Homo sapiens: one gene and its partners. The protein of the gene in region 4 purifies or fractionates together with the protein of the main gene of each other region. This does not show direct contact. Each region holds a gene or a part of one and is shown on either strand. Other genes may lie near its edges. The genes, in order: PON2, PPT2, PRKACB, NAXD, TMEM209, STX17 and DDX19B.

Evidence for each region.
Region 1: the proteins of NAXD (region 4) and PON2 purify together in Homo sapiens (affinity purification with mass spectrometry; one large-scale study listed by BioGRID and IntAct). This does not show direct contact.
Region 2: the proteins of NAXD (region 4) and PPT2 purify together in Homo sapiens (affinity purification with mass spectrometry; one large-scale study listed by BioGRID and IntAct). This does not show direct contact.
Region 3: the proteins of NAXD (region 4) and PRKACB purify together in Homo sapiens (co-immunoprecipitation; one large-scale study listed by IntAct). This does not show direct contact.
Region 5: the proteins of NAXD (region 4) and TMEM209 purify together in Homo sapiens (affinity purification with mass spectrometry; one large-scale study listed by BioGRID and IntAct). This does not show direct contact.
Region 6: the proteins of NAXD (region 4) and STX17 purify together in Homo sapiens (affinity purification with mass spectrometry; one large-scale study listed by BioGRID and IntAct). This does not show direct contact.
Region 7: the proteins of NAXD (region 4) and DDX19B purify together in Homo sapiens (affinity purification with mass spectrometry; one large-scale study listed by BioGRID and IntAct). This does not show direct contact.

What each region holds. Positions count from the first base shown.
Region 1 is NC_000007.14:95,421,529-95,425,028, forward strand, and holds part of PON2 (serum paraoxonase/arylesterase 2), read right to left. Parts: intron 3,058-3,500; coding exon 2,987-3,057; intron 2,161-2,986; exon of another isoform or gene 1-2,160. UniProt on the Homo sapiens protein: Capable of hydrolyzing lactones and a number of aromatic carboxylic acid esters. Has antioxidant activity. Is not associated with high density lipoprotein.
Region 2 is NC_000006.12:32,152,650-32,156,940, reverse strand, and holds the start of PPT2 (lysosomal thioesterase PPT2 isoform a precursor), read right to left. Parts: upstream 2,801-4,291; 5' UTR 2,537-2,800; intron 2,355-2,536; coding exon of another isoform or gene 2,347-2,354; coding exon 2,164-2,346; intron 1,912-2,163; coding exon 1,758-1,911; intron 1,254-1,757; coding exon 1,158-1,253; intron 1,071-1,157; coding exon 963-1,070; intron 1-962. UniProt on the Homo sapiens protein: Catalyzes the cleavage of thioester bonds from S-palmitoyl-CoA or S-palmitoyl-N-acetylcysteamine (unbranched structures) but does not have activity against palmitoylcysteine or palmitoylated proteins, branched structures or bulky head groups.
Region 3 is NC_000001.11:84,231,271-84,234,770, reverse strand, and holds part of PRKACB (cAMP-dependent protein kinase catalytic subunit beta), read right to left. Parts: intron 1-3,500. UniProt on the Homo sapiens protein: Mediates cAMP-dependent signaling triggered by receptor binding to GPCRs.
Region 4 is NC_000013.11:110,625,545-110,629,044, reverse strand, and holds part of NAXD (ATP-dependent (S)-NAD(P)H-hydrate dehydratase), read right to left. Parts: intron 1,607-3,500; coding exon 1,498-1,606; intron 1-1,497. UniProt on the Homo sapiens protein: Catalyzes the dehydration of the S-form of NAD(P)HX at the expense of ATP, which is converted to ADP.
Region 5 is NC_000007.14:130,184,907-130,188,406, forward strand, and holds part of TMEM209 (transmembrane protein 209), read right to left. Parts: intron 462-3,500; coding exon 286-461; intron 1-285. UniProt on the Homo sapiens protein: Nuclear envelope protein which in association with NUP205, may be involved in nuclear transport of various nuclear proteins in addition to MYC.
Region 6 is NC_000009.12:99,913,154-99,916,653, reverse strand, and holds part of STX17 (syntaxin-17), read right to left. Parts: exon of another isoform or gene 2,503-3,500; intron 1,477-2,502; 5' UTR 1,415-1,476; coding exon 1,292-1,414; intron 1-1,291. UniProt on the Homo sapiens protein: SNAREs, soluble N-ethylmaleimide-sensitive factor-attachment protein receptors, are essential proteins for fusion of cellular membranes.
Region 7 is NC_000016.10:70,309,186-70,312,685, reverse strand, and holds part of DDX19B (ATP-dependent RNA helicase DDX19B), read right to left. Parts: intron 78-3,500; coding exon 29-77; intron 1-28. UniProt on the Homo sapiens protein: ATP-dependent RNA helicase involved in mRNA export from the nucleus.

The DNA of each region.
Region 1 (3,500 bases), on a different chromosome or scaffold from region 4:
AGGCAAGATGAAGCTGCTAAGTTACTTGGGACTCTTGAACTGTCTGCATGATCCAGCACAGATGTAGTCAATCTGCTATTTGATATGAGTTTGCCTCCTCCCACTTAGTGTTTGGGCAATTGAAAGAAGGAAGGGAAATTCCAGGACAGCCAACCAGTCTAGGGGAGGGGAGGTAGAACTGGGGAAATACAAAAGTATCAATGAAAAAAAGGAGAAAGAACACATAGGAAACAGATGCCTAAGGAATGAGAGGCAGATCAACCTGAGGAAGCTGATTTAAAAGAAGAAAAAAAGAAAGGGAGGCAAGCAAGGTATTTGTAGAGAAACTCTGAAGGTGGCACTGTCAACTGATGGTTTATTTTTACTAAAAGAGTGCTGAGAACTCTGTCTGGAGTGAATGTGGTTACAACTATGAGGTACTGAGTTTATTACTGTTGCCAAATTGAGAGCAACTTAGCAATGACTGTCAAAACTCTAAACACATATTCTAAGGGAACAACAATCCCATTGTTAAGGACATATTCTACAGACACACAAACTCAACAGCAATGATGTTCACTGATTTGTTCATAGTTGCAAAAAACTGTAACAACCCAAATGTACATTAAAAGGGGAATGGTTAAATAAATCATGGAATGTGAAAATATTAAAAAGAACAAAGTAACTATATATGCTGATGTGGAAAGCTGCTCACACTGTTTTAGGAATGAAGAAGGTTGTGAAATATTTACACTAAAATTCTATTTGTGAAAAAAAGAGTCAATATATTTGTTTGCAAATGCACTGAAACTATCAGGAAAGATAAAAAAGGGAGCTTTATCTTTGGGGTTATTTCTGTTGGGGGTGATGAAGAGTTTGATGAGAGATTTTTATTTTTATTTACTTTCCATTTTATATCTTTCTATATTGTTTGCACATACACTGTTTATATGAACTTTGCACAAAAAATACTGTGCAGTTGTGAAGAAAAGGTAACATTATGTACAAACATAAGTTTCCAAAACCTAGTATTAAGTACAAAAAGCTAGTTTTGAAATATTATGCATAATTTGACCTCACTTATGTTTTTAAAAATTATGTACAGGAGTATTCATAAAAAGAAAAAGATGGAAGGACACTCAAAACTTGTTTAACAATGTTACCTATTCAGAGAAGAGAACATTTCCATGTAACCCGAGTTTTAATTTCTAAAGAGTAAAACAAAATATTAAATTGTCTCTCCTACCTCTAGAGAAGGATGTTGTTGTAAAGGACTAGAAGTGACTCAATGACAGTCTAGTTATTTCCACACTGTGGCTCTCAGAGTAAGATTATAAATAAATGGTCCCAGGCTTTTTAAAGTCTAAAAACCATTAGTCTAATCACAAACTCATCATTATAGGTGACAAATACAAAAACCAACTTTGCCTAAGGTTACATTGTGGCAGAATAGAACTAGAAACTAGGTGTTTTGACTGCTAATTCTTTTTGTTTCTAATCATACCATGAACCATATCTAAGGAAAGCCAATATTGGCTGGGCTCAGTGCCTCATGCCTGCAATCCCAGCACTTTGGGAGACCAAGCTGGGAGGATTGCTTGAGGCCAGGAGTTCAAGACCAGCCTGGACAACATAACAAGACCCTGTCTCTACAAAAATAAAAAACTAGCCATGAGTGGGGGCATGTGCCTGTAGTCTCAGCTACCTGGGAGGACGAGGCGGGAGGATCGCTTGAGCCCAGGATATCAGGGCTGCAGTGAGCCAAGATTGCGCTACTGCATTCTGGCCTGGGTGACAAAGTGAGGCCACCTCTCAAAAAAAAAAAAAAAAAAAATTAAAATTTAAAAAAAAGGAAAGCCAATATTTATTGTTCATTGATAATCTAACTACTAGTCTATTATGTACTAGGGACATGTACTTAGTAGATGATAAAGGGTAAAAGACAGCAAGACACAGACTCTACCTTGGAGAAAAACTGCAAACACACCAGAGAGACCCTCAGTGCTGGAGAAGAATCTGGACAGATCCCTCCTTATCTATAGCAAAATTGGGGCTTGCTCTTAGGAACCCCTACTCAAAGACTCAGACTCCACAATACATCCTACATAAAGTCAAGGGAAGAGGGAGACTCCCCCTCTGCAGTCATAGCTTAGAAGATAAAATAAAAACAAGTTTTTACAATACATATTGTGAAGTGCCGGTACATCAGTCCGTTCTCAGGCTGCTAATAAAGACATACCTGAGACCGGGTAATTTATAAAGGAAAGAGGTTTAATTGACTCACTGTTCCGTGTGGTTGGGGAGGCTTCAGGAAACTTACAATCTTGGTGGAAGGGGAAGAAAACACACCCTTCTTCACATGGCGGCAGCAAGGAGAAGTGCCGAGCAAAAGGGGGAAAAGCCCTTATAAAACCATCAGATCTCATGAGAACTCACTCACTATCACGAGAACAGCAGCACAGGGTAACCACCTCATGATTCAATGACCTCTCACTGGGTCCCTCCCACAACACGTGGGGATTATGGGAACTACAATTCAAGATGAGATTCGGGTGGGGACACAACCAAACCATATTGGTCAGTTACGTGTTAGCCATAAGATCAGATCCTAGTTATAGAGTAGTGAGCAGGGTAAATGCTGTCACTGCCTACATAAAGCTTCCTTCACTAGCTGACCACAAGGCTCACAGAACACAGACTGCAGCGGCCATACCTGACAAACAATACAGACGCAACAAAAATAGTTCAGAGAAGTCACAAAACAAGCAAGAAATCAAATGCTAAACATAGAATTACACACAAAAAAGAATAATTTACAGTGAGGGTAGGAAAGAAGAATAAATACAGGGTTCATCAGATCAAGAGGTTGACCAAAGAGGTTTTTGTTGATCTAATGTGATTTATCCACTGAAAAGCAGTAATTTCATGCTAAAATGCCATTAATGAGTGTTTTAATGTTAATGGCCAAAAAATGCAATGTGCCCAACAAGCATTTTCATATACATACCAATTCCTTTAATCAGGTGGCAGTGTGGAAGGTCTACAGATTCTACTTCTCTGGAGGCTTTAAGTCGATTTCTGTTACAAAGAAAAAAAAACAAAAAACAAAAAACTATTTGTTTATGTATTCCCTGCTTTGTTTTAGAAAGGGTTTAAAGAGGCTTACAGCAATACATAAAACACAGTTTAAGTCTAAAGCAGATGAAAGAGAAAATAGAAAGACAAGGGTAGGAAAATAAAACTGCACCAGAAATGAAGTTAAAACAAAAATGCCTATTGCAAAGTTCTATATACTGATGTGGGTTATTAAAAAAAAAAAGCCAATAACTCAACAAATAAAACTTATAATGCAAGTTCCTATGCAAATGTAAACACAGCACCATGTCACATTTCTCAGTGTTGGTGTTGTGGGAAAAGAGTTCCAGATGTAGAACCAGTAGCCCTGTCTTCCTTCTGAAGAGTCAAACGTGAAAAATGACTGTAAGCCTCACACAGAGACTGCAAAGAAGCCAAGAGAAAAT
Region 2 (4,291 bases), on a different chromosome or scaffold from region 4:
CCAAGATATTGGGATTACAGGTGTGAGCCACCACACCTGGCAATAGCAAGTACTTCTATCTAGTATCTACTATATGAGCCAGGTACTATTCAAAGTACATTGCATTCATTTATTTATTTAATCCTTACAACCACCTGGTGAAGTACATGCTATAATATTTTACAGATAAGGAAAACTGAGTAACAGAATGGTTAAGTAACTTGCCCAAAGGCACCCAATAGGGTCAAGATTCAAACCCAAGTATTCTGGCCCCATGGTCTGGTCTAGAGGTTGGCAAACTGTGACCAAAGGACCAAATCCAGCCTGCTACTTGTTTTTGTAAATGAAGTTTTACTGGAACACAGGCACATTCATTCACATATGGTACATGGCTGCTTTCACACTACAACAGCAGAATTGAGGAGTTGTGAAACAGACTATATGTCCTACAAAGTCAAAAATATTTACTCTCTGGCCCTTTATAGACAAGGTTTGCTGACTCCCACATCAGACTAAACCTTCTAAGGCAATAAGGTGACACACTTAAAACATTCTGGGCCAGGTGCAATGGTTCACACCTGTAATCCCAGCACTTTGGGAGGCCGAGGCGAGTGGATCACCTGAGGTCAGGAGTTCGAGACCAGCCTGGCCAACATGGCGAAACTCCATCTCTACTTAAAATACAAAACTTAGCCGGGCATGATGGCGCCTGCCTGTAATCCCAGCTACTAGGGGGACTGAGGCAGGAGGATCACTTGAACCTGGGAGGCGGAGGTTGCAGTGAGCCAAGATGGTGCACTGCACTCCAGCCTGGGCAACAGAACAAGACTCCGTCTCAAAAAAAAAAAAAATTCTGAACAGAGCCTGTTCAAATAACTCAATAAATGTAAGTTATCTTTATTGTCATCACTGCTATTGGTTGTAGCAGAGGTGGAAGCAACTGACCTGATCCATGGAAGCCCCAGTTCAGCATCCCCACTCACCATGCCAGTAGTTGCAGATGGAGAATTCCTGGCCCCAGGGGCTATAGCAGATCCGATAGAGGTTAGACCGCATGGAGGTGGGGAACAGCCACTTCAAGTAGTCCGTGTCTGGCAAGCGAATGGCAATGCTAAGTGACCATAAACCTCTGTTCCCCCAAAACTCAGGGCATTCTATGGAGTCTAGTGCCCACTCACCTCCATACTGTCCCATCTGTGGAGAGGAGAGGGAGATGAAAGAATCCACGTTGTGATCATCCATGACAGAAAGCAGAGCCCGGCACACAAGGCCCCCTGTAAGCAGAACACCACATTGGGCAGGCACTTAAGGACAGCAAAGCCAGCAGCACCCCCCACCCCCACCACACACACACACACACACACACACACACACACAGAGACACACACAGACACACACTGTACACAAAGGAGACTGAGGCTTACAGAAGGCAGGCACACCCTGTGCCAAAAGGTCACACATCATATAAGTGACTGAGCCCGAATTAGATGCTGGGCCTCCTGCCTCTAGTTCTAGGATGTTTTTACCTGCCCCATTAGCCCTTATGTCCAAGAACCATGGGTAACAGGAAGCAAAAGGGCAGCAGTGTAGGGAGCCTCCCTCCCATTCAAGACAGAGATGAGACCCAGGTGCTGAGGGAAGTCAGAAAGGAAGGGCTCAGGTACCAGGGTTGTGCCTGGAGCAATGTGGTTCAGAAAAAGGGACGCTAGGAAGTGTCCCTCAGATAAGGATCAAGCCTCAGATAGGGCTTAGGAGTTAGGGGCAGGGGAGTCGCCTACCCTGCGAGTAGCAGATGAGATGCACCCCTTGAGGGGCCTTTGCCATGATGGGGACCACAGCCTCTCGGAACCCTTGCACCTGTTCCCACAGGGGTCGCAAGCTCTCTCTCCCATCGAAGAGATCGAGCACTGTCACCACAGTCCCGGGGTGTGTCTGTGGGAAGGGGGCAATGCAGCCACCGGGGATAGGCTAAGAAGCTCCCACACGCCACCCCCTGGCCCGCGTCCACAGGTCTATTGTACCCTGCTAGAACCAGGGATCCCGTCCCCCAACTCTCCCCCACGCCAGCACCAGCTCCCTGAGGAACTGGGCAGGCCCAGAGGGGTGGCTTTCAGTTCCCCGCTCTCCCTCCCCTGCCACAGTAGACGCCTCTAACGCCCTGCACCCAGGTGTCCCCTGCCAGACCTCATTGATGTATTCCAGCAGGTGGCGGAAGCTGTACGAGCTGTCGAAGAGCCCATGCACCACGATGACCGGCTTGTAGGACGCGCGGTGGGGCGCGGGGGCTGCAAGCAGCAGCAGCGGCAGGAAAGGCAACAGAAGCAGGACCCACGCCGCGGGGAGCCGCTGCCCGCAGAGCCCCAGCATGCTCCCGCCTGAGAAAGGGGTGATAAGGGCATGTGAGGGAGATGGCAACACCCTCCTCCCTCGGAACAGACGCCCGGCAATCAAGCCACCTCCTCTCGCTCCCACACCAGGTCCGTGTCACAAAATAGCCTACTTTTAACTTACTCCAGCCCTCTCCCTACAAACACACCCCCCCACCACGTTGACGCACCAACGCGCACCCGAAGTCCCGCCTCCAACTCAGCGTTCGGGGGACTTGTTCTCTAGGTCCAGGATCTTCCTAATGCATCGCCTCAGCCATGAACAACGCGGAGTTCTTTAATACCCGTGAGCAGCAGCCCAGGCCCCTTGAAGAGTGCAGACTCCCACCTGGCCTGGGTCCGTAGGCCTCGCTCCACCCGCTGTTTACTTATCCCAAGTCTGGAACCCACGGTGGCGGGGGGAAGGGTGAGGAAAGAGAGCGCAGGGGAATGACGGATGGGAGGGGGAAGGGCGGGCTGCTTGGGGTCGCGCAAATCCGTCACGTCCGGGGCTTTCTCTGGCAACCGCGCGAGCGTTCCCCGCAACACAGACCCAGGACAGGAGGGGCAATGGAATATTCCATTGCGCCCTAGGTGCTGGGGAGGAAACAGGCGGAGCGATCCATTTAGGCCAGTGGGGAGAGGAAAAAGCAGCAAACATATTCTGGGAATGGAAAGAAGGCCTCTCCAGGCTTCGTTGCCCCCAGCGACCCAAAAGTCCGATTTCCCCGCCTTGATTCTCCCCACTTCCCAATACAGGCGTCTGGCTCCGCAGCAGAACACGAAGTTTGCATTCCCCAAGGGGCGGCCAGGGGGCGGACCAGGGAAAGGTAGTCCTCTGCATTTTGCCGTGTGCTGGGTGAGTGGCAGGGTGGCCTGGAGGGCTGATGCCAGCCCGGGCGTGCCCCTCAACACCCACCCCACCCCACCCTCCAGTCCGCCCCAGGTCAGCGACTTACAACTCTTCATTCTGAAGTGCGTGTAGTGCCCTTGTCTCCAGAGACGCAGAGAGTCCTCGAGGCCCCTTGAGCTAAGTGCAGCCTGGCCCAGTTTCTCCTGCCCTACTCTACTCCCCTCCCTATAAGCGACCCACCCTCAAGGGGCGGAGGGCGCGTAGGGATGCGCTGACTCATGCCCGCGTAATTTCGACCAGTCTTTCAACCTGAACGACCCCCAGAATCTGGCTGTCTGAGTTATCTGTGGGTGGCTCCCTACCGAAACCCCCAGGCGCCCCACCTCTCCGCCTGTGACCCCTAACCGACACCCTAGTGCCTCAGGGCTTTTACTTGCTAGGGCTTTTACTTAGCATTTAAAGACGTTTCTCTAGAGATAAGGATTTCTCAGCATGTCTGAGCCCCTCTCTCTGTTTACAAGGTCATTGCTTGGTCTAAATTTGTCTCAATCAAAACATTTTTGCGCTCAGAATGGTGTAGAGTGACGATGAGGTGGCGGTAAGGGGTTGAGCGCTCACGCGAACGCCTAAGTGACCAGAACGACTGGTGTGAAGCCGTGATCTGACTCTGTGGAGCCTGGGACTGGTTTCAGCGAGAGCCTCTGTACTGCTCTGTAGTCTCTGCTAGGACATGGACGAAAAGGGACGCAGCCGGGAGAGCGACTGCCCCAGGTGGGGGCTGGGGGGACGTAAGGGAAGAATAATAATTATCTGGCTGTGTTTTTGTTTAAAAAAAAAAAAAAACTGGTGTAAATCTCCATAGACTTCCTATCCTCGCTCCCTTCACCCACCCACGCGCTCCCAAGATGCAATAAGCAAATAAAAAGACTAATAACGCTGTACTGCAGGTCGACTCAGGAGCTGGAGATGCGTCTTGGTGGGAGGTGGTGGGTGGGAGTAGGGGGGTTTAGGGAATGGATCTGAACATTGACCAGCCCAGAGACTCTAAGCAGCCTCAAAAGCAAAGGGAAAGTGGGGGAACAAGCACACATTA
Region 3 (3,500 bases), on a different chromosome or scaffold from region 4:
CGAAGCAGGGCAAGGCATTGCCTCACTCAGGAAGCGCAAGGGGTCAGGGAGTTCCCTTTCCTAGTCAAAGAAAGGGGTGACAGACGGCACCTGGAAAATCAGGTCACTCCCACCCGAATACTGCGCTTTTCCCACGGGCTTAAAAAACGGCGCACCAGGAGATTATATCCTGCACCTGGCTTGGAGGGACCTACGCCCACGGAGTCTCGCTGATTGCTAGCACAGCAGTCTGAGATCAAACTGCAAGGTGGCAGTGAGGCTGGGGGAGGGGCGCCCGCCATTGCCCAGGCTTGCTTAGGTAAACAAAGCAGCTGGGAAGCTCGAACTGGGTGGAGCCCACCACAGCTCAAGGAGGCCTGCCTGCCTCTGTAAGCTCCACCTCTGGGGGCAGGGCACAGACAAACAAAAAGACAGCAGTAACCTCTGCAGACTTAAATGTCCCTGTCTGACAGCTTTGAAGAGAGCAGTGGTTCTCCCAGCACACAGCTGGAGATCTGAGAACGGGCAGACTGCTTCCTCAAGTGGGTCCCTGACCCCTGACCCCTGAGCAGCCTAACTGGGAGGCACCCCCCAGCAGGGGAACACTGACACCTCATAGGGCCAGGTACTCCAACAGACCTGCAGCTGAGGGTCCTGTCTGTTAGAAGGAAAACTAACAAACAGAAAGGACATCCACACCAAAAACCCATCTGTACATCACCATCATCAAAGACCAAAAGTAGATAAAACCACAAAGATGGGGAAAAAACAGAGCAGAAAAACTGGAAACTCTAAAAAGCAGAGCGCCTCTCCTCCTCCAAAGGAACGCAGTTCCTCACCAGCAACGGAACAAAGCTGGACGGAGAATGACTTTGACGAGCTGAGAGAAGAAGGCTTCAGACGATCAAATTACTCTGAGCTACGGGAGGACATTCAAACCAAAGGCAAAGAAGTTGAAAACTTTGAAAAAAATTTAGAAGAATGTATAACTAGAATAACCAATACAGAGAAGTGCTTAAAGGAGCTGATGGAGCTGAAAACCAAGGCTCGAGAACTACGTGAAGAATGCAGAAGCCTCAGGAGCCGATGCGATCAACTGGAAGAAAGGGTATCAGCAATGGAAGATGAAATGAATGAAATGAAGCGAGAAGGGAAGTTTAGAGAAAAAAGAATAAAAAGAAACGAGCAAAGCCTCCAAGAAATATGGGACTATGTGAAAAGACCAAATCTACGTCTGATTGGTGTACCTGAAAGTGATGGGGAGAATGGAACCAAGTTGGAAAACACTCTGCAGGATATTATCCAGGAGAACTTCCCCAATCTAGCAAGGCAGGCCAACATTCAGATTCAGGAAATACAGAGAACGCCACAAAGATACTCCTCGAGAAGAGCAACTCCAAGACACATAATTGTCAGATTCACCAAAGTTGAAATGAAGGAAAAAATGTTAAGGGCAGCCAGAGAGAAAGGTCAGGTTACCCTCAAAGGGAAGCCCATCAGACTAACAGCGGATCTCTCGGCAGAAACTCTACAAGCCAGAAGAGAGTGGGTGCCAATATTCAACATTCTTAAAGAAGAGAATTTTCAACCCAGAATCTCATATCCAGCCAAACTAAGCTTCATAAGTGAAGGAGAAATAAAATACTTTACAGACAAGCAAATGTTGAGAGACTTTGTCACCACCAGGCCTGCCCTAAAAGAGCTCCTGAAGGAAGTGCTAAACATGGAAAGGAACAACCGGTACCAGTTGCTGCAAAATCATGCCAAAATGTAAAGACCATCGAGACTATGAAGAAACTGCATCAACTAACGAGCAAAATAACAAGCTAACATCATAATGACAGGATCAAATTCACACATAACAATATTAACTTTAAATGTAAATGGACTAAATTCTCCAATTAAAAGACACAGACTTGGCAAATTGGATAAAGAGTCAAGACCCATCAGTATGCTGTATTCAGGAAACCCATCTCACATGCAGAGACACACATAGGCTCAAAATAAAAGGATGGAGGAAGATCTACCAAGCAAATGGAAAACAAAAAAAGGCAGGGGTTGCAATCCTAGTCTCTGATAAAACAGACTTTAAACCAACAAAGATCAAAAGAGTCAAAAAAGGCCATTACATAATGGTAAAGGGATCAATTCAACAAGAAGAGCTAACTATCCTAAATATATATGCACCCAATACAGGAGCACCCAGATTCATAAAGCAAGTCCTGAGTGACCTACAAAAAGACTTAGACTCCCACACATTAATAATGGGAGACTTTAACACCCCACTGTCAACATTAGACAGATCAATGAGACAGAAAGTCAACAAGGAATTGAACTCAGCTCTGCACCAAGTGGACCTAATAGACATCTACAGAACTCTCTACCCCAAATCAACAGAATATACATTTTTTTCAGCACCACACCACACCTATTCCAATATTGACCACAGAGTTGGAAGTAAAGCTCTCCTCAGCAAATGTAAAAGAACAGAAATTATAACAAACTATCTCTCAGACCACAGTGCAATCAAACTAGAACTCAGGATTAAGAATCTCACTCAAAACCGCTCAACTACATGGAAACTGAACAACCTGCTCCTGAATGACTACTGGGTACATAACGAAATGAAGGCAGAAATAAAGATGTTCTTTGAAACCAACGAGAGCAAACACACAACATACCAGAATCTCTGGGACACATTCAAAGCAGTGTGTGGAGGGAAATTTATGGCACTAAATGCCCACAAGAGAAAGCAGGAAAGATCCAAAATTGACACCCTAACATCACAATTAAAAGAACTAGAAAAGCAAGAGCAAACACATTCAAAAGCTAGCAGAAGGCAAGAAATAACTAAAATCAGAGCAGAACTGAAGGAAATAGAGACACAAAAAACCCTTCAAAAAATTAATGAATCCAGGAGCTGGTTTTTTGAAAGGATCAACAAAATTGATAGACTGCTAGCAAGACTAATAAAGAAAAAAGAGAGAAGAATCAAATAGACGCAATAAAAAATGATAAAGGGGATATCACCACCAATCCCACAGAAATACAAACTACCATCAGAGAATACTACAAACACCTCTACGCAAATAAACTAGAAAATCTAGAAGAAATGGATAAATTCCTCGACACATACACTCTCTGAAGACTAAACCAGGAAGAAGTTGAATCTCTGAATAGACCAATAACAGGATCTGAAATTGTGGCAATAATCAATAGCTTACCAACCAAAAAGAGTCCAGGACCAGATGGATTCACAGCCGAATTCTACCAGAGGTACAAGGATGAATTGGTACCATTCCTTCTGAAACTATTCCAATCAATAGAAAAAGAGGGAATCCTCCCTAACTCATTTTATGAGGCCAGCATCATCCTGATACCAAAGCCAGGCAGAGACACAACCAAAAAAGAGAATTTTAGTCCAATATCCTTGATGAACATTGATGCAAAAATCCTCAATAAAATACTGGCAAACCAAATCCAGCAGCACATCCAAAAGCTTATCCACCATGATCAAGTGG
Region 4 (3,500 bases):
AGACCACGGCAACAGTGTACAGGAACCAGAATGCAAGGTCCAGAGTCTGGGCTGCAGGGGCAGCGACGCACACCCTCACTTCCCACCTTTCACACTTCCACGCAGTACAGTGGTTTTTTAAGATACCAGTTTTTAAATTGTGAACTTAAATTCACAAAGAAAATAACCTGAAGCAGAGCACTCTGGCTCGTTCACCTCTAATTCATCCGCACCCCCAGGATGCAGAGCTGGACAGGAAGCAGCAGCCGTGCACCGCAGACCCGCAGCCTGCAGATGGGACTCCCCATTGAGAGCCTCTCCCCGGGGATGACAGAGGGTTCTACTGCTCCTAAACATGGCCACCTCCTCCTTCCCGGTGAGCGGGTAAGACCTTAAAGCTCAAAGACGGGCTCCCGTGCTGACTCCACGCCGCTTTTCCTGGTCTGTGCAGTGTCAGCCTGCGTCTGCCTGCCCCTCAGATGACTCATCCTGCACTGCTGGCTCCATCACTCGCCGCCTTCAAGCCCCGCAGCCTCAGAGACCCCTCCATTAACTAAGCACCCAACAGAGTGCCATGCAGATGGCTGGCATTTTCAGGGTGACTGCTGATCTGGGGAACACAAAATGGCCAGGCACCTTCTAAGGGCTTCAAGCGTAGTCCCTCACTAATGCCCGGCCTCTGATCCCCATGCAGTCACCACGCCTTGCACATGTGAGCACCCTGTGGCACCAAGCCATCTGGCACACTGTGTCTTCCCCCAGGAGCTCTAACAGGGGTCCCCCGGAACTTGAGAAAGGGTCTCAGAGGGCAGCCCCACAGGAGCACAACCCCCAGCAGAGACACACCAGCCCAGGGAGCGTCAGAGGACGCAGGGAACACAGAGCTGGCAGCCATCCCCATCTTTTTATCGCCCCTGATCCCAGGTGGTATTTATTTACAGCAGGCACAAAGTGATCAGAATAACTTTCATCTTTTGGATTTAGGTGGGCATAAGATGAACTTTAAGAAAGAAATACCAGCATAAATGAGAGTCCATGCGCATATGCATGTGGGCACGGACAAGCAGGCCCGTGTCACCTCACAGCCTGATGTCAGCAGAGCATGGCGCCAGGGCTGTGTGGGAACAACGGCCCAGGAGGCTGAGGGAACCCCAGGATCCCCCAGCAAGAAGGGGGTGGCCTGGGAGATACACCCAGGCCTGACCCCAAACCTCTGTCACCTCCTCAGTCCTGCTCACCCTCTCCTCACATCAGACATAAAACAACTGAGCAACTCCACACACACACCTCCTGCAGCTGCTCCATGAGAAAACAGTCGGGCCCGGAGAGAAGCACATCTCAGCACAGTTCCTCCCCACCTTTGCACTCAGTTTCTCCTCCGTCCCTCAAATCTTATCTCAATCATGCCACAAAGAGGCACACGGAACACTACACAAAATGCAAGAGAAATGCCTCTGTTCCAACTTCACGCCTAAGGCTAAGCCTGTCATGAGGGAAGTGAGTGAGTATACACATTACCTGGACATTTCTGAGAAGCGCATCATCTCTACCCAAGCCAGGTCCTACGACAAGAGCATGCAGCCGGGGCAGCCACTTCTCCACCTCATGAACAGCATTGGGGCTGTCACTAAAGAAGGAAAGGAAGGCCAGGATGGTTACCCACAATTCCTCATTTACTTACTGTCATGTATTTGTTTACATTTTATTTTGAAAAAATAACTTATAAATAGTAATGACTTTTAAATAATTTCTGTAATTTAGATTTATTATTTAATCAGTACAGAAGGCTCCCATGTACCCTTCGCCTAGCCTCCCCGAGGTTAACGCCTCACACACCCACATTCCGGATCAGCATGACCAAGTTCACATTGGTTAATACTATTCATTAAACCACAGCATTTTCCAAATTTCCCATTTCCTCTTGATGTCCTCTTCCCATGTCAGGACCCAAACCAGGCCCCACACTGCATGTGGCCATTGCCTCTCCCTGATCTCTCTTTTAATGCCCAGATTTACATGCCTAGCTTTCAACAGTTACGACAAGTTAGAAAAAGAACGATGGCTATTTTCAAAATCATCTTTGCCCTCTAAAGTTAGCCCGTTTGTTTCCATCACATACATGTGTGGCTGTAAAGCCTACTTTGTGTGCTTATAGACCAGGCCCCACACAACGCACTGACCCTGCTGCAGTTTCTCATTCAGAACAGGGCAGGGGTTTGCTTTTTCAGAACTCCTTCCTGTTCGGTGTGACCTCTCCTAGAGCCCACTGTTAAGGCTTCTGTCCCCTTTCCTCCCCGACAAGCTCCCTTGTCAGGGTCACCCCGCACTGTGAGATGCACCAACTGTTCTCAGGCCTCATCTCCAACTGACCCAGAGTCGCACACACAGGCCCTTCTGGAGCTGTCTGGAAACAGCGGCTTCACTGACTCCTGGAGGCCCCTGCTGCCTCCTCCCCAGCCCGTGCTCCCAGCATCTGAGTGCCAAGTCCCCCCTGCCCCCAACCCCAGCCCCCCTCCGCCTCTTACTCCCTCGTCTTCCAGCTTTAAGCACCGTCCACATGTGCATGACTCCCAAGCCCGTGTCCCCACTGTCCAATGCCCTCTAGCCACGTCCCTTGGATGTCTAACTGGCAGCCAAACTGCGCCCTACACCCAACGCCTCATCTTCATCCCACCCAAGCCCGTTTCCACCACATGGAGTGACCACTCGCTCAGACCAAAACCCTTGGTGGAGTCTGTGCCCCTTGCCTTTTCCAATCCAATCTGTCGGCAAATTCCACCCCCAAACTTTCCAAACATACCCAGAATCCGGCCCCTCTCACCATCTGACTGCACCCTTCCCTCCCACAGGTCCTTACCACAGCCTCCGGCCCAGCCCCACAGCCGCGTAGGAGCCTTTATGACCCACACTGGCCCTGCCCTGCTTACTCAGGGCCAGAGCCACAGCCCTGACAGCAGCCCCACACCCTGTGGGGCCCAGCCCTGCACCTCTTGGTCACCCGACACATCACAGCACCGCACCTGGAGCTCCGCGCCGGCTCCTCTCTGGTGTGGAGAGGCCGGGCTCGACCCAGGCGTCATCACACTGTGCTGCCGCCCCAACTGCCCCTCTGCCCACTCTCACAGCCCCCTCCCTGCTGCCGCTCTCTACGGTTCCTTCACCACCTGACATCCTCCTCTCCCTTGTCTCCAGAGCAGCACAGCCCAATCCAGTCGGTGCAAACACACACAATGAAAAGTAAACAAGAGCAAACGCTCTGCTCCCGCACCTCCCAGCCACATTTCAAGCCCTCAGTGGCCACAATCCTGGACGGCAGAGAGAACACCTCCACACAGCAAGCTCTATAGCATAGGCGGTCTGGGGGAGCCCCACGGGGGCAGGTTTTTGCCTGCCCAGTTCCACGCTGACCCATGGAACACAGGCTAGGGCCTGGCACCAGACATATGTGCCGAGTGCAGGAAGGGTCTTGTTATTGCTCAGAGGCCCTTCGTTTCCACCTTCTGCAAACCTGTCACACACAG
Region 5 (3,500 bases), on a different chromosome or scaffold from region 4:
AAGTACAATTATATACCTGAGAGCCTTTTTATAATCAATGTAAAAATATGTTTCAGGCAGGGCGCTAAGGTGAACTGTGTGTCACAGAGTAAAATGTATGATATAATTTAGTTTTTAGTTTTAGGCACACAAAGTAAGACAGGAGCTTTCCCACTGCCTAATGTGTGCCAGATTTACATTTCTGTCCAACAGAATGGAAGATTACAGAAAAAATGTTCCAGAAGTAGAAGACTTTCTAACAATGCATAAATCATAAATATTAAGTCACTTTTATTTTCCACTTACCTCTTCTGCGGCTTGTTTAGAGCTGAGATCGGCTTCATCTTTGTTAGCACATGGGGCCTGAGACCTACAGGCAAGCTGATACTGAAACTTCTTTAAAGTTTGTGCATAATCCCCCATAGAACGACTATAGTTCCAGAAAGTAGGACTGCTGGAAGGAGAGGTAGAATCTGGGCTCCCTACAATTGTTAAGATAAACAGTATCAGTGTGTTGTAGCAATTCTGACATCTACAGTTAACACTTATATCTAGGCAATGGCAATCCAGGAATCAGAAGACCAACCCTCAAGGAGATTCTCTTCTCCCCAACATAATTTTCTCTTTAGAGATCACAGTCTGCTTGTGATTAAAAATTTTAAATAGTATTTTCTGAGCCATATCAATTTAACAGTCATAAAAACAATAAGCAGTCAAAGGCATCTGTCTAGTTCTGTTGAAAAGTTAAGCTCGTTTCATTCTCTAAGACTTTTAAATCATTTAGTAAGAAACAAACAAAAGACAAATTTCTTTAGGAAATAAATAGGCCAAGCAAGTTCTTTATTTGAAATTTCTAGAAGCTCTTTCTAAAAGGGATAACTATAGCCTCCTACTAAAAGATTACTCTCCTGGTAACAAGCTAAACTTATTTGTCCCTGTACTTCACTGTGTTTTACTTAACAGCCTGTGGTAATTCCTGAGTTGTACTAAAAGACTATCTGATGGTTATCCTTCTAAATTTATAAATTTACTTTTAAGAAATGTAAAAAAAAGTTCTATTTAGGAATGTACTCCTACAGAGGCCTCTGAACCAGGATATTAATCACACTTCCGGGTTATAGTTTTTGTCTGTTTTCCCAAATAGAATTTGAGCTCCTTGAAAGCAGGGAGCATTTTTTTTCCCTAGCATCTAGCATAGCGCCTGAATAAATAAGCAAGTTTTTGACAACAATTATATGGTATTTATGAAGGGCTTATATTTTCGGAGTTTAACTGATATAAAAAATATCAATTGGTACTTTATACCCTCAAACAAAACTTATAAATAGAAACAATTTTTTTTAATCTTAGCAGAATTCTAAAAGGAATGACTAGAAAATAATAAAACTCATTTTCCTTATGCTTACGGGTACAAAGAATTAGGAATCATCAAACGGGTATGTAGCAATATAATTCATCAAAATTTTGATGGTTAGCTAGTTTTGTTAGCGTTGGTGAATGTTTCATGCTGGCATAAAAAGTTATATACAGTAAAGAAACATCACACTGTATGAAATTCTGGCAAAACTGACTTTAGGAATGAATTAATGTCAAGAAAAGCAGTTGTCAACCAACATAAATGATTTAATAAATAGAGAACAGAAATGGAAAGTAAAAACATGGTCATAACAGAGCATAAAGTTATCCTATTTGATTAATCATTGCGATTATTAACTTTAAGAAACGTAAGTTTTCTATGAAAAAACTTGTATTTGAGTAAAATTTCATTGAGGACTGGCTTTAGACAATGAATAGAAATAGGAAGTTCTAGTACCTCTGGGCATTAGTCAAAGCAAAGAAAAAATGTACATAGCAAGTAATGACAAAATAGGGCCTTTCCATGATGAACACCACCATCACCACCACCACCACCACCACAACAACAGCACACAATCTATAGCTGGAGAACCTCAAAGACCTAAGAGTCAAAGCACATGGAGATTTGGAAATCTGGGCAACACAGGAAACCAGACAACCTAAAACATCTCCCACTATAAATATCTAAAAACATTTATTAAATAAAATACATTCTTTAGGCCAGTGCGCGGTGGCTCACGCCTGTAATCCCAGCACTTTGGGAGGCCGAGGCGGGCAGATCACTTGAGGTCAGGAGCTCGAGACAAGCCTGGCCAACATGGTGAAACCCTGTCTCTACTAAAAATACAAAAATTAGCCAGGTATGGTGGTGCATGCCTGTAATCCCAGCTACTCAGGAGGCTAAGGCAGGAGAATTGCTTGAACCCGGGAAGCGGAGGTTTCAGTGAGCCGAGATCACCCCACTGCACTCCAGCCTGAGCAACAGAGCTAGACTCTATCTCAAAAACAAAAAAAACCTCGATCTCAAAAAAAAAAACAACATTATTAAGATGAATAATGGAGCTTGCAAAAAAGTAAGGCTATGAATAGCCAGTGGTTAAAAATGAAAAGAGAATTAAAAATCTAAATAGCCTGTAAGAGGCTGCTGTGGCGTGGCTGCTCTAGAGAATTTTGTAGGCCTTGAGAAATCTATCAGCTTGGATTCATTGCCCAAGTGGGAAACGGAGATAAGGATTTGGGCCCTTAAGAGGCAGAGAGTTGGGCTGACACCTTTCTCCTACCCCTAGTCCCTGGTCCTGGTAGAGGACCAGGAATCTCAAAGGGCCACATTCAGAGTAGATAAGAAAAAAATCTGTTCAATGGGACCAGGAGATAATGAAAGCTTGTCTGTCATAGGTTGTTGGGAGACTTAAAAAAAAAAAAAAAGAAAAACAACACCCTGAGATTTAAAAATTATAGATATATCTTCACATGGGTTTAGAGTGCCCATTTATATTACCTGTGAGGTCCAGGAATCTCCAAGCTTAGAAATTACTTAAGTTAGCTCAAAGTCAATAATACTCCTAAGGCACCTGACAGAGGCAAATACAAAACAGCTAGGAAGAGACAAGGCTTCCATCCAGCCAAGATAAGCTTACCAGAAACAAACAGAAATTACATCAATCACAAGGAAACAAGACTGCAGTCCTAACAACCAACAAGACAAAAATGGTCAGTATTTAACCTCCAAGAACTTTAGATAATTGAACTATTGGACAAATAACATTTAAAAAGTGTGTTTAAGCAACTGAGATAGAAAAAGGAACTGAAAACATAAGAATAAAAAATATTCTACAAAAACCTGGCATAATTGAAAAGGACCAAATAAAACTATAAAATGAGAACAAGTGGCTGAAATTAAAAAACTCAATGAATTAGTTAAATAACAGTTTAGACATTACTAAAGAAAGAGCTGATGAGTCCACAGTGACTAAACCAAAAAAGCTGGGGTGGGGGTAAAACAGAATGCTCCTCTTTAGAGAAGAATGCCAAACTATGAAGTGTAGAAATAAATAATTAGAAAATCTCCACTTTGGCCAGGCGCAGTGACTCACACTTGTAATCCCAGCACTTTGGGAGGCCAAGGCGGGCGGATCACAAGGTCAGGAGATCGAGACCATCCTGGC
Region 6 (3,500 bases), on a different chromosome or scaffold from region 4:
TTCATTTTAATATTCTCAGAACTGATTTTCTCCACTTTTAAAAGGACTTGAATTCTAGAAAGACAGATGGTATCTATGGAAGAAAAAGGTACACTTTTCTGACTTCTATATGCTACTGAGTTGAGTAATGAATAATGTTTATATTGAAAGGCTTAATGACCATATCCTCCACTCCCAACCTTCAAAAGAATGAATGAATGAATGAATGAATGAATGAATGAATAAATAAATAAATAAATAAATAAATAAATAAATAAATAAATGGAGGTTCTGCAGCTTAAGACTTATGCTGGGAAAAGTCTTTTTGAAACAAAAAATATCACTGGCCTGTCCCACAGCAAATAAGACAACATAATCTGCCAAATTAATGCTCAGTACTGAGTAAACTTGATGTTTCCAAAAATGCCACAGCCACTTCACCGGAGCATGGTAGGTTCTATGCAACCTCTATCATAGTCCCTGAGACTAATTCATCTTCTCCTTACCTATTTCCTCAACTGAATTAGGCAGTACTTCTCAATTGTGAGCTTTCCTCAAAGGGAAGCTGTGAAGTAAGGAAATTCCCTCATATCTCACAATGATTTACTTCTTTAATGTATGTATACCTAAAGAGAATACGAGTTACTGAAAGACACACACTCAAAGTTCAAAAACTTGCCATGGGGTGAATGAAATTAAGGCAGGTACATTAGCCAAAGTTCTCTGCCTTTACATTATAGTGCACCATCAATCAATTTGTATCTTAATTATTAACTGCCTAAAACCTCAATATGTACAATTAAAAAGGTATAGACTTGGCCAGGCGCCACGGCTCACACCTGTAATCCCAACACTTTGGAAGGCAAAACAGGAGGACAGCTTGAGGCCAGGAGTTCAAGACCAGCCTGGGCAACAAAGCAAGAACTTGTTTCTCCAAAAAAATAAAAATAAGTTAGCCACGGATAGTGGTGTGTAGATAGCTTGAGCCCAGAAGTTTGAGGTTGCAGTAGGCTATGATCATGCCACTGCACTCCAGCCTGGGCAACAGAGCAAGACCTTGTCTCTCAAACAAACAAACAAACAAAAAAGCATAGACTCTATTCCTATATCCCTTCCCAGAAAAAGGAATATATGAGAGGTATATATGCAGAACAGAAAAACCAGCTAAAAAATGCATAATGTTGCTAAATCAATAGGAGCTAGGTGTTTCAGCAATGCCTCTTATCTAATATTCTAAATTTAGCTGAAATGAACAACCAATATAAATCAAACTATGTAACTATTTCTTGTGGTAGTAAATGAAACAGCTCACCTTCTCAATATTTATCTGGTGCTTTCTTAACCTTTCCAGGTCTGTTGGGATTACTATCTTAATGAATTTCTGGATAGCTGGTTCAAGACGGCGTAATTTCACTTTTTCTTCATCTTCAGACATCCTAAAAAAATGTTGTATGACCTCCCTGGTAACAGCTGTCTTCTCCACTCATATAGAAAAACCTAAAAGAAAAATATTTCTTTAAGAATGTTTTCAAATCTGTTTCCACTATTTTTAAAAGCCAACGATTAGTTTTACAATTTATTCTAAATCAATAAATAGAATATTTCTAATGCTGACCTTGAGTGACTTGTTTTTTTCTTTATGAAACCACTGATTTTTAAATCTTTTTCTCTTTACAAAAATTATATTTTAGAATGTTCAGACAATATAAATAAATGAAGAATTAAATAAAGTCAGCAGTCATCTCCTCACCTTTTACAAAGAGTACAAAATGTACTCTTTACATTTTGGCATACGTCTCTCCAGGTCTTTTTCTATGTAAGTAGGTATGTATGTATATAAATACTTTTAAAAAAGCTAGGAGTATACTGTCCAAGTTTTCATTTTCTGATCTATCTTGGACATTGAATAACCTTTTTAAAAAAGGTATCAAATGGCTTAACACTGATGCTTGTATCAAACTTCATGTCTAATGTCATCATAATGTAACTTTGTAATTACACAACTTCAAATATATGATAACATAATATGCAACTTTTCTCATTGATGTGCTTTAAACTGCCTCTTCCATTTTCAATAAAGTGATTAGTATTGCCTACAACTGATTCAAAAAACCAGTGACAGAGCTGGAATAAGAACCCAGATTTTCTGAAATTACATTGAAATACTTTTTCCACTTCACCAGTAGTTTCCTACTAGTGTTCCAGAAAGTCCAAGGGTATGCATTTGGGGCCAGAGTACAAGCGTAGGGGCTAGAGGTGAGTAGGTTCCAGGACTCCACTCCCTACTTCAGTTGTAGAAACTTTACTTACAACTATTTTATGAATTGGAGCTTATCAGAGCTTATATAAATAATGGGCTTCACAGCTTAACCAAGCTTGAAAGCCACCATTGTACACCATGCTTTCATGCCATTTCATTAGCCACAACCTCACCCATGTTTAAAAAATTTTAAGTTGAGTATGTTAATACTGCTGAGTTATGCTGTCTTAGTCCAGGGTCTATAAAGATAGGAATTCACATACAGACTTTGTGGAGCCACTGAATCTTTATGAAAAATTGTGAATGAAGGGGCCGGGTACGGTGGCTCATGTCTGTAATACCAGCACTTTGGGAGGCCAAGGCGGGAGGACCACTTGAGCCCAGGAGTTCATGGCCAGCCTGGGCAACATGCCAAAATCCCATCTCTACAAAAAAAAAAAAAGAAAAAAAAAGTGAATATAGTTTATTTTGGAGAATAGAGTCCATTGTTTCAAGGGATTCTCAGAGATCTATCATCCCCAAAACATTAAATATTTATCCCCTTTCTTTCACAGTTGAAAATCTTGATGTGTTGGTTATATAGACTGCCTCCAATACCTACCCATTAGTAACTTGGTTTTTATGTTTGATACAAGGCTCAAAAGTCAAAAAGGAAAATCTCCAGGTACAAAAACAAAGAGGGTAAAACAGGTGCAACAGTGAATGGAAACTGGGGACATATGGAGAAATTCATTACCAAAAGAGACCATCCACAGACCCAACAAAACAGGAAAATTCATACCTAATGGACGAAAGATAATAAAATAATTTTAAAAAGAAACTAAAGTAAGTATATTTTTAAATATCCAAAAACATTCTATTCCAAAAAGGAACAGAATCTTTTAAAAAAATAGATATTATGAAACAGTAAGAGGCCAGCCTGAATATAAAACAAGTAAAACTTCTAGAAATGAAAATCTCAAAAGATGTGTTAAACAGTAAATTATATAGATAAGAAACAATTATTGATTGGAAGAAATCACTCAGAACACAGAGGAATAAAAAGATGAAAAGTATAAAAAAGAAGATAAAAGACATAAAGGATAAAATCAGAAGCTTAATAACAAGTAGAAGTCCCAGAAAGAAAGAACAAAGAAAACAGTAAGAAGGAATTATTCAAAGAGAATATACTGATAATTAAAATGTAAGACCTCAAACTGAAAAAGCACATCAGCCTCAAGTAGCATACATTAAAAAGAAACCAAATTTGCCTAAATACATG
Region 7 (3,500 bases), on a different chromosome or scaffold from region 4:
GTTTTCAAACTAGCTATTAGTTACTTACCATTGGTATCTGGTTTGATTTTCTCTTCCTTAAGATGCAAGTTGCTCAACTAAATGGAGAATATGGGGGAGGGGGAAAGTGTCAGGAAAAGCACTTAAAAAGATTTGGAATCAACAGAGCCTCCCTAATGAAGCTGGGGATAAAATAGCCATTCTCAAGGTATATTCATTAGGACCAATTCATTGGGTTGTTCCGTTTACTAAATGTCTGATGAGAATAAACAAAATTTCCCGTAAATACATCGGTGGAAAAAAATGCTCCAAATCTGTACCTTCTACTTAAAATTCTGTGAGAGAATTGTAATTTGTGAGTTTGCTTAATGCCCTGATTATAAACTTTCTCTCTTTGTAGAATATCATTAGAGTTGTCATTCTCTCATATTTCTTTTGTGTGTGGGGGGGAATCGCTGCATTCCAAATCATATTTCAAACAAGAGGAAATTTAAAGAGATTTTGAAAAATGCAGTCATACTTTGGAGAACACTGGGAAGGGAGGACTGTGATGAAAAGCATCTGTAAAGCCAGGTGCGGTGGCTCGCGCCTGTAATCCCAACACTTTGGGAGGCTCAGGCAGGCAGATCACGAGGTCAAGAGATCGAGACCATCCTGGCCAACATGGTGAAACCCCGTCTCTACCAAAAATACAAAAATTAGCTGGGCGTGGCGGTGCATGCCTGTAGTGCCAGCTACTTGGGAGGCTGAGGCAGGAGAATCGCTTGAACCCAGGAGGCGGAGGTTGCAGTGAGCCAAGATCACGCCACTACACCCCAGCCTGGCAACAGAGTGAAACTCCGTCTCACAAAAAAAAAAAGAAAAGAAAAGAAAAGAAAAGCATCTGTGGGTAGGAATCAGTCATACTGCAGGATACGTTAGAGCCGTAAGACCACAGTATGCTGATGTGCAGCCTCACATTCAAGTCACCTTTTGCTGGTGTCTGATACTGTAGTTGGGAACAGCCTGAAGCATTGTGGCACACTGTGTAATTAAAATACCCACTGGGCTGAAGTGGAAATAGAAAGGAAAGAGACATTTCAAAGAATAATTACTAAGACTTTGATCAAATACTGTATATTAGGGATATCCTAGCAGGTCTTATCTCCTCTATTAGAATGCAAATACCTTCCTGACAGGGCCTATTTCGTTTTCTACTGCTCCTTGAGGAGCAGGGCTACCCCACAGGAAATGTGCCCAGAGTAGCATATTTCTATTTTTGGCCTTTGGATGTAGTACAGAGCAAAGTAAGTGCTCTAGTCGTAAATTTTTTGTTTGTTTGTTTTTTGAGACAGAGTCTTGCTCTGTCACCTGGACTGGAGTGTAGGGGCGCGATCTCAGCTCACTGCAAGCTCTGCCTTCCGGGTTCACGCCATTCTACTGCCTCAGCCTCCCGAGCAGCTGAGACTACAGGCGCCCGCCACCACGCCCGGCTAATTTTTTGTATTTTCTTTTTTTTTAAGAGATGGGGTTTCACGGTGTTAGCCAGGATGGTCTTGATCTCCTGACCTCGTGATCCGCCTGCCTCAGCCTCCCAAAGTGCTGGGATTACAGATATGAGCTGCCACGCCCGGCCTTTCTAGTCGTACATTTTTATTAAAAACAAAACAAAACAAAAAAGCCTTTTTTTTTTTTTTGAGACAGAGTCTCGCTCTGTTGCCCAGGCTGGAGTGCAGTGGCCTGATCTCAGCTCACTGTAAGCTCCGCCTCCCGGGTTCATGCCATTCTCCTGCCTCAGCCTCCGGAGTAGCTGGGACTACAGGCGTCCGCTACCACCCCCAGCTAATTTTTTTGTATTTTTAGTAGAGGCAGGGTTTCATCATGTTAGCCAGGATGTTCTCAATCTCCTGACCTCGTGATCTCCCTGCCTCGGCCTCCCAAAGTGCTGGGATTACAGGCATGAGCCACCGCACCTGGCCAAAAAAGACTTTTTTAAAGGTCAGAAAGCATCTGTAAGTCTTGGACCCCAGCACAGGGATTAGATAGATGGAAAGTCTGGCGTGAGTAAGTAACCTTTCAAGCTAAAGCCAACCCTAATCATAAAATATCAAGCAGGGCCTAAGACATCATCTAGTAAAAAGAAAATGAAAATCACAACCTAATGGTTCTTTCTTTTTTTTCTGCAGACGAGGTCTCACTCTGTTGGCCAGGCTGGAGTGGTGCAGTGGCATGATCATGGCTCATTGAAGCCTCAACCTCCTAAGGCTCAGGCAATCCTCCTGCCTTAGCCTCCCAAGTAGCTGAGACTACAGGCACTCACCACCATGTCCAGCTAATTTTTTTTTTTTGAGGCGGAGTCTTGCTCTGTTGCCAGGATGGAGTGCAGTGGTGTTATCTCAGATCACTGCAACCTCCGCCTCCTGGGTTCAAACGATTCTCCTGCTTCAGCCTCCCAAGTAGCTGAGACTACAGGCATGCACCACCATGCCCAGCTAATTTTTGTATTTTTAATAGAGACAGGGTTTCACCACATTGGCCAGGATGGTCTCAATCTCTTGACCTCATGATCCGCCCACCTTGGCCTCCTAAAGTGCTGGGATTACAGGCATGAGCCACTGCGCCCAGCCTGCCCAGCTAATCTTTTATTGTAGAGTTGGGATCTTACTGTGTTGCTCAGGCTGGTCTTGAGCTCCTGGGCTCAAGCGATCCTCCTGCCTCAGCCTCCCAAAGTGCTAGAATTATAAGTGTGAACTACGCATTAGGCCGCATTTCTGTTGTCCCTCTAAGTCCAAGAACAGGCGAAAGGGGAAGGAGGGTAGAGAGGAGAGAACAAAAAAATGTTTTAATTGGTGGTTTGTTGAGAATGGAGGAGCCCCATTTCTATTTCTCTTTTTTTTTTTTTTTTTTTTTGAGACGGAGTCTTGCCCTGTCGCCCAGGCTAGAATGCAGTGGTACGATCTTGGCTCACTGCAACCTCCGCCTCCTGGGTTCAAGCAATTCTCCTACCCCAGCCTCCCAAGTAGCTGGGATTACAGGCGTGTGCAACTACGCACAGCTAATTTTTGAATTTTTAGTAGAGACGGGGTTTCACTATGTTGGTCAGGCTGGTCTCGAACTCTCGACCTCGTGATCCACCCGCCTCGGCCTCCCAAAGTGCTGGGATTACAGGCGTAAGCCACTGCACCCAGCCAGGAGCCCCATTTCTTTTTGTTTGTTTGTTTGTTTTGTTTTTTGAGATGGAGTCTCGCTCTGTCGCCCAGGCTGAAGTGCAGTGGCGTGATCTTGGCTCACTGCAAGCTCTGCCTCCCAGGTTCACGCCATTCTCCTGCCTCAGCCTCCGGAGTAGCTGGGACTACAGGCGCCTGCCACCATGCCCGACTAACTTTTTATATTTTTAGTAGAGACGGGGTTTCACCGTGTTAGCCAGGATGGTCTCGATCTCCTGACCTCGTGATCTGCCCGCCTCGGCCTCCCGAAGTGCTGGGATTACAGGCATAAGCCACCGCGCCCAGCCTCCCATTTCTATTCATGGAAATGGACAA